2 separate regions of the Homo sapiens genome follow, and region 1 is linked to region 2. Evidence: fine-mapped expression QTL. A gene starts in region 2. The other region holds a variant in brackets. All regions are shown on one strand. Distances are between the middles of the regions.

Region 1 (9,089 bases), 51 kb after region 2:
CGGCGTTCTGCCTGCCCTCGCCCTCCTCCGGTCTTGGCTCTCCTCGGTCATTCCCCTGCCTCTCCTCCCTCTCTTTCCCTTCTCTGCTCAGTGGTAGCCCTTCCTGCAACCACCCTAATCCAAAGTGACACTTCTTATAACTGCCTTTCTCTCTAGGAACTTTGGGTCCAGGTACCCCAGGTGCTTTCTATTCACATGAGAACATGGGAAGAGGGAGCTAATGGAATAACCCGCACTCAGCAGCACCACCTTCCCAGCCCACAGCAGACAGAGGAGTCCCAGGCAGAGTGAGGCGCATGCTGGGCTTCTTTTCTGCATAAATCTTCATGGGGCACAGAATTGTTCAGATCTGGGCTAACCCTCTCATGACACCCATCTCCCACCCAAAGCTATCCTTGGATGTTGGTCAGCTTGGGAGGGCTAAGCTTATGTATGTGACAACTTTTTCACAGGTCTTCTTTCCTGATATAGAAGGTCATGGAAAGGGCTGCCCTATCCTTACCCGCAGATCTAATATTTGCTAAAGCTGAGAGTATGAGAATGAGGCCAAGCAGAGAGAGACAAAGCCCCCTCTCCTCCTTGCACTGGATCTCCTGTGATCTGACAGCACTCCACTTTCTAGTGTTGACGCTAATGGGGCAGTAGGCAGGGACTTTAAAACACAGGCAGCTAACTCTCACTCCCAAGGAATCCTACCCAGCCTCAAATCTCTCAGGAAAATAATATCCCCGAGAAAGGGGCTAGGGCAGGGAGGGATGCCAGAGAAAGAATTGCCAGAGAGCTTTTTTTAAGGGAGAGTGAAGTGATCCTAAGCCTTCTCAGCCAGAGCCTGCCCAGCAAAAGCCCTTTCATTCCCTTGGGTCTCCAAAATTACAAGTCCCTCTTTGGAGAAGGAGGGAATACTCCTGCTTCCCTGCTAATAAGATCAGAGGTACTACTGTGCCCCGAGGGTGCTGGCCACCGAAGTCACACTGGGCAGCTGACTATGCCCCATACGTTCCAGAGGTTCCTGGGCAGGCTCAAAGCTCACAATGCTATACTCCCCAAACCCCGGTCAACCCACAGACATCAGGGCGGCGTGCGGAGGGGTGAGCGGTGGGGCAACTCTCCCTCTCAGATTCTTTATTTAGGGCTGTGCTCAGTCCAGGATGGCCTCAGGCCTGGAATATAATCTCAGCACTAAAAACACTCAACAAGAGGGAATTCACTTATCCCCACCCACCGACACACATACACACACACACACACACACACACACACACACACACACTGTGCACACATCATACATGGGAAAGCCTGAGAGACCCATGGGGCAAAGGTCAGTTCTCTCCCAGGCCTGCTCCCTGCAGCTCTCATGGCCATAGACACACATGGGCTCTTTCCGCTGCTCTGTGCTGCTGGCACAGACCTGGAGCAATTATTTTGTCTACTTGGGCAGGACTGCTCTGATTTTTTTTATTTTAATTGAGACGGGATCTTGCTCTGTCACCCAGGCTGGAGTGTAGTGGTGTGATCATGGCTTACTGTAGCCTCGACCTCCCAGGCTCAAGCAATCCTCCCACCTCAGCCTCCTGAGTAGCTGGGACTATAGGTCCAGCTACAGGTCCACCATGCTTGGCTAATTTGTGTATTTCTTGTAGAGATGGGGTTTTGTCATGGAACCCAGGCTGGTCTTGAACTCCCAGGCTCAAGCAATTCTCTAGCCTCAGCCTCCCAAAGTGTGCACCTGCCGGAGTTCCTTATCAATAGTATATTTTCTAATAATTTCTGACAAATCAAATGCTTACAAGGTAGCCCTTCTCATGACTATCTAAAAGGCATCATTAGAAAACACTCCCTTTGGAGGAGGTTGCAGTGAGCCGAGATCAAGCCACTGCACTCTAGCCTGGGCGACAGAGCGAGACTCTGCCTCAAGTAAACAAAACAAAACAAAAAAGCAAACACTCCCTTTTAACCTGAATCATCACACCGCGTAGTGCAGGAGCCTGGGCCTCCCTTCCTACAGGTGCAGTGGTGCTACATTTCCCAGGCCCCAGAATCCAAGTCAGTCTTCCCCAAAGCTTTACACTCTCTCATGTGGCCCTCAGACTCGCAGAGACACACACACACTCATACCCCAACAGGGCCATAGCTGGGGGCACACACTTCCCAGGATGTTCCAGTGAGTAGCTGGGGGACAGAGGTGTCAAGAGAGCCCAGGTGACAGCATTTTCCTCACCGGCCCTGCTGGGCAGAGGTAAGGATGAGAGATGGCTCTGAAGATGTTTCTACACTGCATTGTCCCCTCCCCTGATGGCCACTTCTGCCAAGTGTGGCAGAAAGGAAGCATTTTTCTCTGATGATGGCTACCTAGCTGCTTCCTGTCTGGCTCAGGCTTAGTAAGAGGGAGCAAGAGATGAGAGAGAGGAAAGGGGTCACTTTCCGGCAGCCTCCCCGGGGCTCCCACCATTGAAGTTACCATAGAGGATACAACCTCAGCTGGCTAAGGTCACTGCTGGCACATCTCCGACCCACTCATTAGCTGTGTCTATTGTCCCAAGGCAAGACAGGGCCTCCAGAGAGCTAGGGAGGGTGGAGGAAAGAAGAAAAGCCTCCGAGGGAAGGTGCAGAAGAGTCAGGCAGTGAGCTGTCAGGGGGCTAGTACAGGTGGGAACGAGAGGAGGACAAGTGTTCCATGGGGAAAACCTTCCACTGCTCAGGTCTAAGGAGATTCAGATTATTTCATCCCCTGGGGCTGAGGTGGAGGAGAGGATAGAAGAGCAACGAAGCTGAGAAGTAGGGCTTACCAACAGAGCAGCACCAGGCTGGGCAGACACATGACTGGGCTAGGATGTCATTTCCTGCCGCAATAGGAGCTACAGGTTTGGAAGCAATCCTGGCCAGTGCTCAGTGGAGACCATCAGCCTGGCGACCAAGGACAGCGGGCAGAGACTCTCTGTTAGCTAAGGGGGGATCCTGAGTGGGCTTCGGCTGGAAGCACAAGGCCCTTCCTAGATGGCAGCGTCAACCTCACAGGTTTGTGACCTAATGCACACTGGAAGGCACCCTGGCTGCGGCCAAGGGTTTTCCAGGTGGGTTTCAGGGAGCACCATGCATGAGATGGAGAACACTGAGGAGAGATGACATGTGTCATTCATCTTTCTGTCCCAGAACCTGCCACGGAACAGGGCACCTATCAAGAGCCCACCAAACATTTGCAGACCTGAGCTGGGTCAAAGAAGAGAACAGCACTTCCTTACATTCCAAGGTGGAAGGTTTAGTCCAAAAATGTCCACATGGCGTGTTGACTACCCCGGCCAAATCACAGATTGTCAGACAGACGGGCAGCAATCCTAAGAGACTACAGATACAGGTGGATGAGAGGGATTATCTTCACTGGGTGAGAGATGAACAGGGCAGTTTGGGGAAATAGTGCCCAGGTTTGGAGAGGACGAGAGGGAAGACAGCAGTGGGCCGGACGCCAGGCCCACGTCAGAAACATGGAACCCGAGTTTCGTTGCTTGGCACCTGCTCATTGTGCAGAAGGTTCTTACGCATTTAAAGCTGAGAACAGCTGATGTTATCAGCACATCTCATTTCCAAAAAAGTGCAATCTGCCTCCACTGCCATGTCACACGGAAGCTGGAGCCCAGGAAACATTTGATTGAGACCGTGAGCTCATGCTGGATGAGTGTAGATCTTTTCTAAATGGGAAGTAGGAAGTGGGGTGATTGCAAAGATACCTCTCACCCACTCAGTAGAGGGACAGCACAGGCCGGCACAGATGCCCACTGAACAAGACAGACTGCCTGCCACCAGGCCCACCTGCCTTGGGTCCCAGGGTGCCAGAACAGGGGAGGTGGACGGGGAGCTGCTTCCCCATTGAGCTTGCAGCTGATTCGCCTGGTGCCCTCCCTGCGTTTCCTCTTCGTCACGGGAGAGACTTACGTAAACTTCAAGCAGGAAGTCAGGGAGGCCCCCAGTGTGGCAAGGATGGCTCTCACCCTGTTCCCCAGGCCTGGGATCACCTCTCTGCCTCACATCTTCACAGGGGTGTTCAGACCTTGTGGGGAGGCACTGGGGTGGTGGGTGAATGTTGAGGACTGAGGGAGAGAGGGAAGGATGATGGCAGCTCACCATCCACAGATCTGGCCGCAAAACATACACAAACTGAAGGAAGCAGGGTATGCAACAGAAATAGAATCAACCTAGGATGGGGGTGGGGATGAATAAGCAAAGGCGAGGAGGAAATCGAATTGGGCAAGGTGGCATCCCCTTCATAAGCCAACCCTCAGATTCCTGGCCCGGTCCTCAGCCCTCCCTCCACTGCCTGGCATGTAAGGAGGCTCTGCTGAGCACTTGCTTGTAGCCTTTGCTCTGCCAGGGTGAATCCTGTTCTCATTTCCCATCTGATGTAATTCAGGCTCAGAGGAGGGCCTGGAAAGGAACCCTGGGGTCCCCTGCCTCGTTTCTCCAGCCTGGGGACAGGCCAACTGTGATGAAGAGCCCTTTGATGACCCTCAAACCCATGACATGAGGACTGGAGAGGAGTAACTTGATTAGCAGGTCCTAAGCCCAGAGCTGCCCAGCACCTTAGTCCACTGTAGATCTACCTCCCATACCCCGAGAGTGGAGACTGTTCTTAACGATAAAGACTTGGAAAAGCTGGGTTTCTGAAGGGTGAGGAGATAATCAGCCCACGGTGCCTGCTGAGACTCCAGGAACTGGAGCACCTGGCCCTATCCATGGACATGCTTGCTTGTTCTCACTGAGCAGAGCCCGTGGTGGCTGGCAGAGCCGGTGC[C/T]GGGCCCCCATGCAGCATGCGAAGCTGGCATGCACAGCATGTTCACCCTTTCAGGAGATGGCAGCCCCACCAGGAGCCAGCTGTCCCTGCTCCTGCTGCAGCGCGCCTTCTAGGGCCACAGCTGGGGACACTGCTCTGAGCTGTCAAGCCCAGGCAAGGACTCAGGTGGTTAACGGGAAGTAATCTACTCAGTGTCAGAATGAAACTGCAGCTCCAGAGAGCAGGTCAGGGCCGGTGTGTGTGTGACCCCTGCTGAGCCATTCTCCTACTCAGCAGGGGGCAAATAGTTTGGGAAGGGGGGAAAGTGGGCTTGCTCTCCTCTGGTCCCATCCTCCACACACATCCCTCTTGACAGTCTGGCTTCCCAACCACTGAAAGGGTGAGTCTGGAGCATGCTTTCAGCCTGAGCCTCTCCCTCCTTGTCCGCCCTGGCTGGGCTGGGCTCCGCCTGCGCTGCCCCATGCCATGCCCATTACCTCCGCGGCTGGTACGGTACCTGCGGTTGGAGTAGCTTCAGAACACAGCGCCCAAGATGGCCAGACAGAGGGAGAAAGGATGGAAAAGGGAAGAGAAAACAGAGCACAAGTGAGACCACAGGACAAGGAAAGCAGGGAAGGTTCCAGCCCAAACCTTATGCAGACGGCGTGGCCAGGTGCTGGCTGCTGGCCTGAGGATGCCAACTGGCATTCAGGGTTCACGGTCAACTCCACCTGAGTCAGGCATGTTCCTACAGAAACCTTTCCACCTGGGCCTTGGAGACCTTTCTAACACACTGTTTCTACCTCGATTCAAGGACTGGACATCTAAAAGGTGGCTGCAGGGACAGTCCACTCAGAGCATTATGTTCCCAGCTCTGTCCTCAACAGCATGTCCTGCTCTGGCTAGGTTGGCATGACCTTTGAGCAGGCTGGGTGACGCTCCATGATGCCAGGAATTGAGGGGATAAGGAGTAGGTGGTGTGGGAGGACACCAACTCCAGTCAAAAGGATGGTTCCTGTCTTTGGGGGAAGATGCTGAATAGTGGGATGGATAGGAGAGAGGGAGCATGTTCAGCTGCACCCACTCCACACCATCGCAACCTTGGAAGGCGGGAACTTTGAAGGATGGAGCCTGGAGCCCCTCTCCTGGTATTCCGTCACTCCAATTCTTCCCCTCCAGTTGGACTTTATGAAGTTAGAAACCCAAGTTTGGACTGAGAGCCCTTTCTTTTTTCTTTCTTTTTCTTTTTTTTTTTTTTTTGGACTGAGAGCCCTAAGTGAAATTCTTGAATTTTCTGCAAAGCCCTAAGTTAAGAAAAAAGCCTCTATTTGTCCTTTTGTCCCCTGGGGCTGCAGAACATTCTCTGTGGTGGTTACTGGGGCTGGACAATAGGGCTTTGTTATCTGATGTTCTGTATTGGGGTGCACATAGGGAGGGAAGAAGGGGCTCTCTTTATCTATCTATTTGCAGAATTGAGTAATCAAGAAAGTGCATCATGGCCTGGCCTGGCCTGGCCTTTGGTGACAGACACACATCAGCCACTAACCTAAGTCCCCCTGCCCTAATAAACTTCCCGAGTGCCCAGGGGCTTGGGAGAGTGCAGAAGAGCACAGCAGGAGGGAGAGCTGGTTGTGTGACTCACTCCTGGTTTCTGAGACCAGAGAGGGATGCAGAGCGGGCTGTCAGCCTTTCTCTGCTTCTGCCTGGCCCCTCTTCTCCTGCCTCAGCGCTGGTCTACTGGCTAGAGTGGTGGGCTGGGGAAGGATGTGGGCAGCTTGTGAAGCTGCCTGGGATCCCGGGGTGACGCAGCGGGCCTGGTAGCCCCAGAGAAGGCAGCACTGATGCTCTCCTGGAATGCGGGTAGGGGTGGTATTCAGAAGACCCCGTCTGGGCCTGGGCCAGGCCACGGGACCTGACCCTTCTGTGGAAAGCACCAGACACGATGACTTGTCAGCTTCCAGAGTGCCCACTCACATCACCTCTTCTCTGGAGTCTTCCCGTGAAGACTGAATCCCCTTCTCTGCCCAGCCACTGCGCCCCCTCATTTAGACATGCAATTAGATATTCTTATAGATGACTCCCCCTCTAGATGGTGTGAGCTTCTTGTTACCTTTGTATATCCCTTGTGTGTGGCAGTGTCTGGCACCTCACATTGTGGGTACTCAAGAAATGGCTGTTGAATAGACCATTGTATCTCTGGAGACACACGGGGGTCCCCAGCCTTTCCCAGAGGGTGTGCCAGTATTGAGGCTTTTGCAGCCTTGCCTCCTCGAGAGGTCCCAGACTGCACATTCCCCTGATGCCAGTGCGTGTGCGGGTGAGCCTGGAGCCCCCTCTAGTGGAGTCCTCAGGCAGGTGCAGCTCTGGTGGGGCTGAAATGCTGCCAGATGACGCCTGGACCCAGGTGATGAACTCATTTGCTCTTTGTGAAGCTGGCTTGGCAAATGGCTGTTTCCTAACTCCTCCTCCTCTCTGCAGCCTGACAACGCATCCAATTCAGGCTGCAAGGAAGGACCACATTCTCTGCTCTACTCATGATGCCAGTAACAGCGTCATCCTGACGGTTTCCCCTACCTCCTTGAACCCATGTGCCTTCGAAGAAAGAAGGTTGTCCCCAGAGCCCTCATGGGAGCACTCACAATCATATTCCTGCCTCCCTCAAGAGGTGAACACTCACTGTTCTTTGGAGTTCATTATGATTTCTCTCATTTCTCAACTCATGCTCTCTTCCTTATTCCTCTACAAGAAGGAAAGATGATAGATGTCAAGTGACTGAGCAAGTCAGGGCAAGTGGGGACCCAGGTGTGACCACAGTGGTCCAAGGAGAGCTGAGCTCCAGATACAATGCCAGCACCTACCTCTCACACATAAGATGGGTTCTCACCTTCCGAGGGCTTGAGGACTTGCAAGTCTCATTTCCTCTCCATCCCAGGCAGCCAGCTACAGATCTCAGTGTTTCTCTAGGCCTCGGAATTAGCTGGGACCTTTTACCCCAGGGGCTGCTGCCATGCACCTACCTTCATTCGGGGGTGCTGGTGACTCCTCTGTGACGGCTTCCCCAGAGCCCACCTGCGTCCTGGCGCTGAGGGTAAAGCGGTAGCGTGACACGGGGTCCGTTCTTTGCACCGTGAACTTGGTCTGATTGGGAGAGAAGTTTTCCACTATCTGCTTTCCTACTTTGGTCCCGTTAACTGGGGAGAGAGAGGTAAGTGGAATTAAACTTTAGCAACATTTATTGATGGGTTATATAATCTGCAAGCTGGAGGAAGAACACTTTCCTGACTTTGCTGGAAAGGGAAATGATGGCACCTGCCTGGTGATCTTAAAGGCTTGGTTCAAAGGCAGAACACTCGGCAAGAACTCCCTCCGGGCTCTTTGATTACACCCAGGGTTAATCCTTCTTCACTGATCCTGTTGTCTCTAGCTCACTGCAGAGTTATGTGGCTGATTCAGAAAGATTCCGTTTATATTCTTAAGCCCTTTCAACAAGGACAAAACTCTTCACTTTCTTTCTTCCTTTCAAACAGAACTAGGACAACGCCACTAGGCCTTTTGATTCTTAATGCCTCCTTTGTAAAGTGCCTATTCAATGGACCTCAAAGGGTGAAAGGGTCTGGTCCAGAGATCAATTCAGAACAGCATACAAGCACAGAGTTGGCTATTAAAATTGCTAACAACACAACATTTGGCTCTTTGAGTTTCCTAACGAGGTACGTTACCTACTTTTGAAGGCCTAAAGTGTTTCAAATGTAATGGCACTCCTGTCCCTGCATGGTGATGCTGAGCTCTTGAGGTGGGGTCTTTCCAACCCAGGCTCCTGATTCGGGTCACCCCACAGTCACCGGGCAGCTCTACATGCAGCTGCCTTATCATAAATGACATCTTGTCAAGGGGTGTCCTGACTGTGGACTCCTGTGAGTATACTATCTACCCCATCAGGTGGAAGCTCCAGAGCTTGAGGAACTCTCTCTCCTAGACTCTGTACGTGTTGGAGACTACAAAAGATCCCTAAAGGCATGGCTGTCTGCTTCATTAGACTGGAGGTCCCTTTGTCTCATCAGTGAGACTAGAAGCTCCCTGCAGGCAGAACTATGAAAGGAGAGCAGGGATTGAGTCCCATCTGCCTCCCCTAATCCTATTGGGAACTGTTTCGTTGGCCCCTCCATCCCTCCACAATGCCATCTGCACCCACAGGCTTTCTACCTTGAGTCCTTAGGAAAAGTGGTGAGAATGGGGTTTCTGGTTCCCAGATTATCTAAGAGAAAGGGAAGGGCAGAACGTACAGGCCACATATTTGAGAGTGTATCCAATCATGATCCCATTTGGA
Region 2 (9,089 bases):
TCTATACAGTCACAACGTCCAGGCGGCACTCATATGTATTTAGGAGACTGACAAACCCACAATCTCCTGGGCAGGTGCCTCCCTCCTCTTACGCCTCAAAGGTGCAATGGTCATAGGTAAGCACTAGCACAGCACCCCAGACTAGGGCACAAGGACACAGCCCCCATGCCAGAGTTATACCTGGTACAATGTGCTCAGGGGGTCACGCGGCCAGGACAGGCACTCCCAAGCAGGTACTCCTTCTCAACAGCCCTCACCTCCTGCCTGATGGGATCTAAGATCAGTACCTTTTCCTTTGCCTAAGACAAGAATTGCCTCCTGGGACAGCACCATCATCCTCCAGGAAGGTCTGAACCATCCCCATGCCCCTCTGGTCAGTACAGGGCTCTGTGGTGGCGTGGGTGAGGGCTGCTAGGATCTCAGCGGGCCAGGCCAGGCTGCAGCTGGCAGGGGTGGGGTGAAGGATTGTGACTGAGGGGTCTCTGTGGTACCCTGAGCTGGAGACATCCTTAGGGCAGAAATGGGGACATAGGGACCTCCTCAGCCCCAATGGGGACCAGGGGTGTCGTGCAGCCCCGTCCTTCCTTAGTCCCCTCTGTGAGCTGCTCAGCTCTCTCTGCAGGCTCTTTGTGATTGCAGCTGCTTCCCCGAGGCCCAGCCCTGGTGCTGACGTGCCCTCTGGGGAGAGCTGTGGCTCCCAGGCTCATGGATTTGTTTGATCTTCTAGCATTGGGCAGGGGGGAGTCTGGCCCTTGATCTGAGCCTAGAGTCTTTGCCCCTGCAAGAGAGACCTACTCTAACAGAGAGACCCTTTAAAGTAGGGAGTGGACAGAAGAAGAGAGGCTTCCATCCTCCTGGGAAGCTCAGGATCAGAAGCCAGCCACCCCCAGACCTTAGGTTTTCCTACTTGCCTGCCCTGCTCTGTGTGTGGTGTGAGGCAGTGAGTGAGGGCTTTAGAAGGATCCCTTTTTGAGATGCCAGGCGTAAGAACAATGGTTTCAACTTGTTTCTGAAAAAGCAAATCAGGAAGAAAATTTCCTCGTGCATTAGCAGAGCAATTTCTGCTTGTCCCCCAACTCTGCTGCAAGGAGGCTCCCCCCAGTTCCTAGACAGCTTCCTCCAGGGTGGCTCAGAGCTTAAGCCTGGTGGGGGTGAGGTCCAACCTGCTCCTCCTCTCAAGCTAGTTTCCTTTGGATTTGGGGTCCAGATTAACTTCACCTCTTGGGCAGCACTGCAGGAAGGCTGCCCTCCAGCCAGGCACAGGGTGGGAGAACCCCTTGGTCAGGGTGTTCAGGGTGGCAGGCACTGAGAAGATGTGGGCTTAGGCTGGAGGAAGCCCAGCAGGTTTGACTAGATGGGTGTGTGTGAGGGGCTGGGGTTGACTTCCCCACCTACGTAGTGAACTGAATGTCTCATTAGGTAAAAAGGACACTGAGATGCGTTTGGGCCTGAGTGTGTCCTGGGATGGGAGGTGTTCAGGTTTTGGATGAGAATATCACACTCCTTGCTTTTGTTTGCATTCTCTTTGGTAAACAAAGAAACATGGGCTAATCTTGTAGCAAGGAATCATCAAACTAAGAAAGGACTTACTCTAGGATGGTTACCGTCAGGATACGGAGCCCACAGAAACTCCCATAAATGTTCCAGGTTAGCAACAGCCTCTGGGTGGTTTGTTTAGATTGGGGTTGTAGTCCTGAAGGATGAGGGGGTGGCCAGCATGCATGAGGGGATGAAAAGGATGTCTGCCTTCTTATGGATTCCTGAGTCACATCCACCTTTTACCATTTGAAAGAGGATTACTAGAAGTTGGAAGAAATTTACAGGGTCAGCCAGCCCAACCTTTGCCTCTAGGCAGGACTCTCTAACCTTGGACCAGACCCCAGTTCTCCACACCATCCTTAGAGTCATCTGAAAGGAGACTGCCCCACCTCCTCATGGCTCACTCTTCTAGCCAGGAAGTGTCTCCTGCAGTCTAACTTAAGTCCCTCTGGCTTCCCTGGCATATTCTTTGCTCTGGTTCTTCCTCCCCTGCATATCAATCACCTCTTCTCCAACCCCCTGGTTCTGCCCTAGGAATCCCTCCAAAAATACAAATACCACCCACACTCAGGCTTAGAGATTGTCTTTGAAATACGCTTTCTCACCAACGTTTGGCTCAAGGAGGTTTCTGAAGAGGGCACCATGCATCCTCCAAACCACCCCAAATGCGTTGCTTCCCTGGTGACTTTAGAGGCAGAAAGGATGCCTTGGGGTACACCTGTCTATGTACATGCTCCTAAGGAGTAAGTTTGGTCAGCCAGAGACGAGATGTGCAATCACCCCGTTAAGCACAATTCCTCGGAGGCCCATCCCACATGTGTCTCTATTTGAACAACTGCTGGCAGAGAAGGTGCTGGAATGGAGTTGCATAAGGAGTGAAATCTGGCAGGGGAAATGGTGGCGGCGGGAGGCTGAGGGCTGAAGCCGGTGGAGTACACGCGATGAGAGAAGGGAGTGCGAGGAAAGAAGGAGTAGAGGAAGGGAGGAGAGTAAGAGAGAAAGAGCCGGGAATGAGAGCAGACTCCTGGAGTCTGAGGCACTCATCTGCATAAGGAGTGTGCCTCTGCTTCCCTCACCGCTCATGGTGTGAGCACAGTGGTCTCTGCACCTGTGAGGCAGGTGGACCTTGGGTGACTTTGACATCATCAGGTCAGGGGCCCTTTCCTGTCTGTCTCACCTCCTGCCTCCCTCTTATTCGCTGAGGACTTCCACGGGAGATTAGGAAGGACTCTGACCTTGTGGCAAAAGCCCTGTCCATGGTTCTGCAGCTTGGCTAGAAAGGGGTTAACTGGTGGGCACCCTGGGGAGGGGCTTGGATGCTGCTGTCTTTAAGGGGAGAGCTCCCTTCTCCCAAGGCCAGGAGTGAGGGCACCTGTTGTGACCTCCAGGCCATCTCCCTGTCCAGGTGCGATCACAGCAGCCTCTCCCACAGGTGGCCCACCTTTTGCTGCACTCGATCTCCAGTGGCTCATCCGGCCCCTCTGAGTGGGACCAGGAGGTAGAGAGACTCGGAGGCTAAGTGAGCTGAGGCGTCTTTGGCCAGACGGTTGGGAGAGGAGGCCGAAACTGTTGCCCAGACGAGACCAGAACATCACCTGTGCACTGGGTTTCTTGGGCTGTTCCTCCTCCCAGCTCCTTCTGAGCAGAGGGAAAAGATGCTGAAACCCACCTTTCTCCAGGGCTGGGGCCATGGCATGCACAACCCCACTCCCTCCTGGCCTCACTGGACCCCCCCCCCCAGGACACAGGCTCAACCCCCAGGGGTCTGGGGCTAGAGGGTGCCCGTCTCCATCCCCAAGTAGCAGCAGGATTCTCCCCTTCCATAGGCACTGCCTTCTCCATGCCCCGCTGCTTCCCAGACCTGAGAGACCCTCTTGGAGAAGGTGACAGGATTCAGCTCTGGACACTCACTGGCTGGGGCTGCCCCCCACCTCCAGCCCATTATGTAAGCCCCACGGTGCTGGGCAGAAGGATTGCCCTCTCTTTCCAGAACTCCCCAGCTCTGCCCCTTCCCTTCCCCATACCATTCTGGCCCCAGCCCCTTTCCTTACTGGAAAGCCAAACTTTGTGCAAATTCTTCCCTCCCACCAGTGAGGATGGGGGGGAGGGATTTGAGGAGAAGCTAAGGTTGGGAGGGGGAAGGGAAGGAAAGGAATTTCAGCCCGGTAGCCCCAGCCTCTCGCCCTTTGGGATGTGACTGGCCTCAGGACTCTCCTCCCCGAGTCCCAGTTCCTGGACAGGCCCTTGCCCAAACTTGTGCTCCACTCTCCCCTCTCTCTTCCACAGCCCCCCTCTCCATCCAGCTGAAGCAAGACTTTGCAAAGAGGTCACCCTGCAGAGGTAGACCCTGGGTGACCTCAAAACTGGGGACTCCGGCTCAATTCCATGCAGGGACTTCTGGGGCAGGCCAGGGCCCAGGGCCTGGCTGTATGGACTGGTCCTGTCCTGGACCGGGTGCCCAGGGCCGGCCCAGGAGAAACTGCCCTCTCCACAGGCAGCTGCCACTGCCCGCTGGCCAACTGGAATTCCTGGACACACTCCTGGGGTCCAGCTTTTCGGCCAGGCTCGGCCTGAGAGAGCCCTGCGGGATGCCGCCCACGTAGACAGGGCGGAGGGGAGCCCCAGCACCCACCCTGGGGCTGAGGGGAGAAGTCAGAACGGCCCCAGCCTGCCAGTGTTCCTGTCCCTGTTCCCTCCCAAGTTACAAGGGGGATATTTACAGGAACTGAGCCGGGAGCCCCGGCCCATAACAGCACGCAGGGAAGTCCCTGGGTTGGAGGAGACAAAAGCGGTTGGCACCTACCTGGGGCGAGAGAAGGGTGTTGGCTGGGGCAGGTGGATGCTGCCCGAGTCGGTGAGCCGGGGCCGGCCGGGCCGCCAGCCCCTGTCTGGGCCGCTGTCCTTTGGGCCCTGGCGGCCTCAGCCGCTCGCTGTCCGGGTGCGGCGGCGGCCGCGGCGGCGGTGGCGGGTGAGGGCGCGTGTGTGTGAGCGCGCCCGGAGCCACTGCAGCATCTCTGCATCAAGATGTGCTCCTCCCTCTCCCAGGCTCCGCTCACTGGCTGGCTCTGGTCCTCAGCCAACGCTCGGGGGCCCTGGAGATGGCTTCCTTCTGCCCCCCTCCCACCCCACTTCCGTCCCCACCCTCCTGGCTTTACCTCATTTGCTGTCATTTAAGGACCAGGGAGCGAGCCCAGCGCGCGTCTTCCATAATGCATGGGCCGCTCATGGACAGGCCGCGGGGCGCTGTCTGGCCCGCCTGCCCTCCCGATCCTGCCCAGCCCCACTTCTAGTCCCCCTGCCCAGGGCTGAAGGGGCAGGAGAGGGGCGGGGTGAAGAGGGAAAAGAAAGTGGCTCTTACTCCTCAAACCCTGGAGACCCATGGAGCCAAAACTCCTGGTTTCCCCAGAAATCCCCTATCCGAGGAAGAGATCCAAATCAGAAATCCCAGCTTGCTGTGTGGGGCAAGTGGCAGGGAGGGGCTGTCTCTGTTGCCCGGTCCACCCCATGTTCCTCTTTATTGTTTCCCTTGTTCAAAAGTAGTTTGAGCTTTTTGTCAAAATATCTAAATATTAGAGGACATTTAAAAATACATAGTGAAAGTCCCTCAACCACTACTCTTAATAAATCTAAGTACATGCCCCCAGGTTTATTATTTTCGTGTATACAATTACATGGGTTAGTAGGGTTATTTCACACAAATGTGATTACATAAAACAGTAGGATTGGCCAAAGACTTTTAACTGTGTAACTGATCTTGGACACTTTTACGCATCAGTACGTTTGGATCCAATCCCATTTTTAAGCAACCAGCAGTGTGATGTCATGAAAAGCTCCCTGGATTAGGGGTCTGGGTGTCTGAAGCATACTCTGGGCTCCACAACCGACTGGCTGTGTGTGCTTGGCTAGGTGCCCTGCCCTCTCTGAGCCTCGCTGGTACCTGAAGGGATTAAAGATGGACACAGTCCTGCCAGCTCTGAGATTCTAAGTGCTCACCCTTGTCAGCGATGCCTTTCTCCTGCCCTGCTCCGGTCACGTGGGGGAGTGCCCAGGAAGGCTGTGGCCCGGAGGCGGAGGGACCAGCCATCTGCGGCACCAGTCGGCCCTGTCAGGCTGTCACTGTTGTCTCACCCCCCTCTGATCTGCCTGCTGTCCAGCTTGCACAGGCAAGACCGGTGAGCAGTCCAGATGCTGCAACAGCTGGCAGGGCCAGGCCAGCCTCCCAGTTTTAAATGGCTATACCTGTCAAGCCTGGATCATGGCTCCATGTCTCCCTGAGTGGAGGAGGTCCTGGGGACCTGGGCCAGAATGAGAGGGTCTGGAAAAGGAGAAGGAGTCGGGGAGGTTCTGCTGCTCAGCCTCCAAGGCTGGAATGTCTGCCCAGGTCCCACATGCGCTCCCCTCCTTTCCTTCTGAGCCCCTCCAAAGGGCTTGCCCAACTTGAGAGATAGTCTTCTTTGTTCCTGATGGGGAGGACTTGGATTTTGCTAATGATGTTTCTTAAATAATGTTGAATGCTGTTATATAGACAGACACATCAACCCCTTGCCAGGATATCTTTCCCTTCCTTCCCCTGCCCACACTGTCCTTGCCTATCTGTATGTCTGAGGGCTGGCACATTGGCTCTGAGCTCCTGAGGTGAACCTTGCTCTTTGGCACCATTCAAGTCAGCCTGGGCTCCAAAGAGAGGCTCTGCAAGTTCTCTCCTAGCAGAAAACGGCAGGAACAAGTCCTTGCCAAGAAAAGGATGCTATGTCTGCTGCAGGGGGCTGACGGGCCAGGAAATAGGCTGGCCCAGGAACCAACAGTCTGGAAATGCTTGCAAGGATTGCTTTAGACGGAGACAGCTGTCTTTGTGACTCTATTTTAGGACAGCTGCTGCCCTGTGGTGGGAGCTGGGTCTCTGGGGAGGGTCGTTAGCACAGGTGACTTGGGTCTTAAAGACTCTCAGATCTCAATGCAACCAGCATGCTCCATGTGGACTCTGGCAGACACAATAAGTGAAAACAAGAACATTTGCCAAGCCTAGACTTGGATGGGGAGACAGTTCCCAAAGTCTCATCTTCTCACTTGTCTGAAGCTCTCAGTGAAGTCTAGTATGAATGAGTTTGGGGAGATTAGGGGGATCTGCACTCCCAGTCTCTGAGATGCTCCTGTTCCTGAGGAGAGAGTGGGGTGGGCATTTGGGGGTGCAGGCTGAGTTTTGCTTGTGGGGCCCATTAGCTTGATAATAACAGAAATAATATCTGTTTTGAATGCCTCCCACATGCCGGGAGCTGTGCTAAATGCTTTACCTGAATTACTTGCGCAAGAGGTCCATGTTGTTATTATCCTCACTTTTCAGATGTTGCTCAGTAAGAGTAAGGAACTTGCTCAAAAGAAATAGTAAACAAGTGGAACCCTGGGCAACGTGGCGAAACCCCGTCTCAACAAAAAACACACAAAAATTAGCCAGTGTGGCAGTGCACACCTGTAGTCCCAGCTACCTAGGAGGCTGAGGTAGAAAGATCACCTGAGCCTGGGAGGTTAAGCCTGCAGTGAGCTGTGATCGTGCCACTGCACTCCAGCCTAGATGACAGAGTGAGGCCTGGGATCGGCCTCCAGCATCCTGGCTTAGCCACCGTGCCATGGACTCCAGCTACCTACTGTCTGTTCTTTTGAGGTGGGCAAAATAGGGGGCAGAACAGTTTCTTCTTCTTTGGTGACATCCAGAGCCCACAATCTTCAGTGCAGCTGACCATAAGGGCCACCTCTCCTTTCTGTGGCTGATCAATATGACTCCATGTTGTCCAGAGCTGGGACTCCACATCTCAAAGTTGAGTCCCCACAGACTTTCAAACAGGGCAAGAAAGGGCCAGTGAAGATAATCAGGTGGCTAGTCAAATGGCTTATAAATTTGTCCGCAAACATGTGGTGCTCCCTTGGTGGTGGTGGGTGGGGATCAGAAAGCATTTTGAGGGCCACCCAACCCTGCCCAGACCATCTGCTTCTTCCTACTGTAGCCACACAAGATTGATAGCAATGGAATCCAGTGGGTCTCTAACCGATCAAGAAGGGACCTCTAGGCCCCATCCCTGGGGACAAGTGGGGAGGAGATGAGACCCTGCCATGGCCCCAGGATGCTGCAGCTTTGCTGTCTCTTTCCTCACCACTCCCCCGCCTCACCTCTCCTTTCCTGGCCTCTCCCGCCACCAGCATCTTTGCCCAGACCCTTTTCCCAGGAGGCCATGTATTTATGGAGCAGCTCCTCTGCCTGGAATGTAGGGATCCAAGAGCCAGGGGATGCGGTCTTCAAAGTGCCAGTGACCTTTTTGGAAGCAGTGTGACAGTGGTAACAGGACTGTCCATCCACAGCTCTGGGGAAAACTGATATGGCCATAAGGAAAAGCTCTGCAGACAGACCCGTTTGACACCCAGTCCTGCTACTGAGGAGATGTGAGGCCATGGGCAAGCCACATACCTCTTCACCCAGAATATGGGGATGAAGACACATACCTCACTGAGTTGATGTGAGTGTTGAGTTACACGTGAAGTAGCTAGCACAGCAGGTGCTCAATAAATGTCAGTATTTCCCTTTTGGGATTTAGCCTCCCTCATCTGTAAAACAAGGATATGAGGCAGAGCAGTAAGGGCTGCAAGTGGTTGGGGTGGCTCTGGATTTGTAGTCAAGAGAACTGGACTCTGTCCCAGCTCTGTCACTCCTACCTGGATGACTCTGGGCAAGTAACAGAATGACACTTAATCGCCCAGATAATCCATTTCTTCACCAGTAAAATAGGAATGATCCTACTCCTATCTAGGATGGTAGTGAGGATATGTGAATTAAACATAATGGTTTTTAAAAGCACTTTGAATTGCAAAGTGCCATATCAAATACTGATGGCCATTCCCTCAGCTATGCAGTCCAAAAGGTAGGGATTATCTCATCAGTCCGTATTCTCCCAGTCCCCCACCCTCCTGTTTAGCACAGTGCCTGGTGCATGGTGGAGACTCAATAAATATTTGTTGACTGGGTGAATGAATGAAGGAGAGTAGCTATAGTAACCATTCAGAGGATGAGGAGAGAGGGAGGTAGGATGTGGGTGAAGCTTTCAGTGGGGGTGGGTGGGTGCATCTTGAATTGAGCCTGGATGGACAGAGAGGAGGTGGGGAATGTGTTTCTGGCATGGGGGCATGTGGTGTGGCAGGAGCCAAGATGTGGGGCCTGGGAAGGCCATGATTTGTGTAATGCCTGGAGAAGCCAAGTTGACCTAGCAGGGGTGCTGGAAGGAAGATCTCAATGCCCTGTCTGCATTTGCCTTCCTAATTTCATGTGAGGGCCCAGAGGGGTCTGTGGCCTGGAGGGGCCTAATTATTCTCTTTGCCATTTCAACCCAGGGCTCTTGCAGCTCCTTTTTCAGGCTTATAATAGATGATGCTAATGTCATTATTAATATTTAATAGTAATGATGCTAATAATGCCCTGCATTTATGTGGTCTCTCCAAAGAGCTCAAAGAACCCTGAGTTCTTTTTTTATGAAACAATTTGGCTGGTGTGGAAGGTGGGAGGGCAG

Direction of the effects. Positions count from the first base shown, and alleles are read on the strand shown. Sizes are in standard deviations (SD) of each study's normalised expression.
With allele T in place of C in region 1, the expression in cerebellar hemisphere of the gene that starts at base 4,525 in region 2 is higher (small effect, 0.36 SD a copy in GTEx).

What was found. PIP is the estimated chance that this variant, and not a neighbour inherited with it, causes the effect.
Region 1: its variant is fine-mapped to the expression of CNTN2 in cerebellar hemisphere (GTEx, PIP above 0.99).

The regions. Positions count from the first base shown.
Region 1 is chr1:204,987,497-204,996,585 of GRCh38, reverse strand. NFASC (neurofascin) reads right to left here. Exons shown (of 30, transcript NM_001005388.3): 22 at 9,046-9,089; 23 at 7,780-7,953; 24 at 5,280-5,294. Among named protein-coding and RNA genes, the nearest start is that of CNTN2, 51 kb to the left of the region's middle. RefSeq lists an enhancer at 6,862-6,951. The variant C/T (reference allele first, on the strand shown) is at 4,784.
Region 2 is chr1:205,038,648-205,047,736 of GRCh38, reverse strand. CNTN2 (contactin 2) reads right to left here and starts at 4,525. Exons shown (of 23, transcript NM_005076.5): 1 at 4,343-4,525. RefSeq lists enhancers at 24-528, 4,595-4,739, 4,687-4,831 and cis regulatory regions at 4,667, 4,759.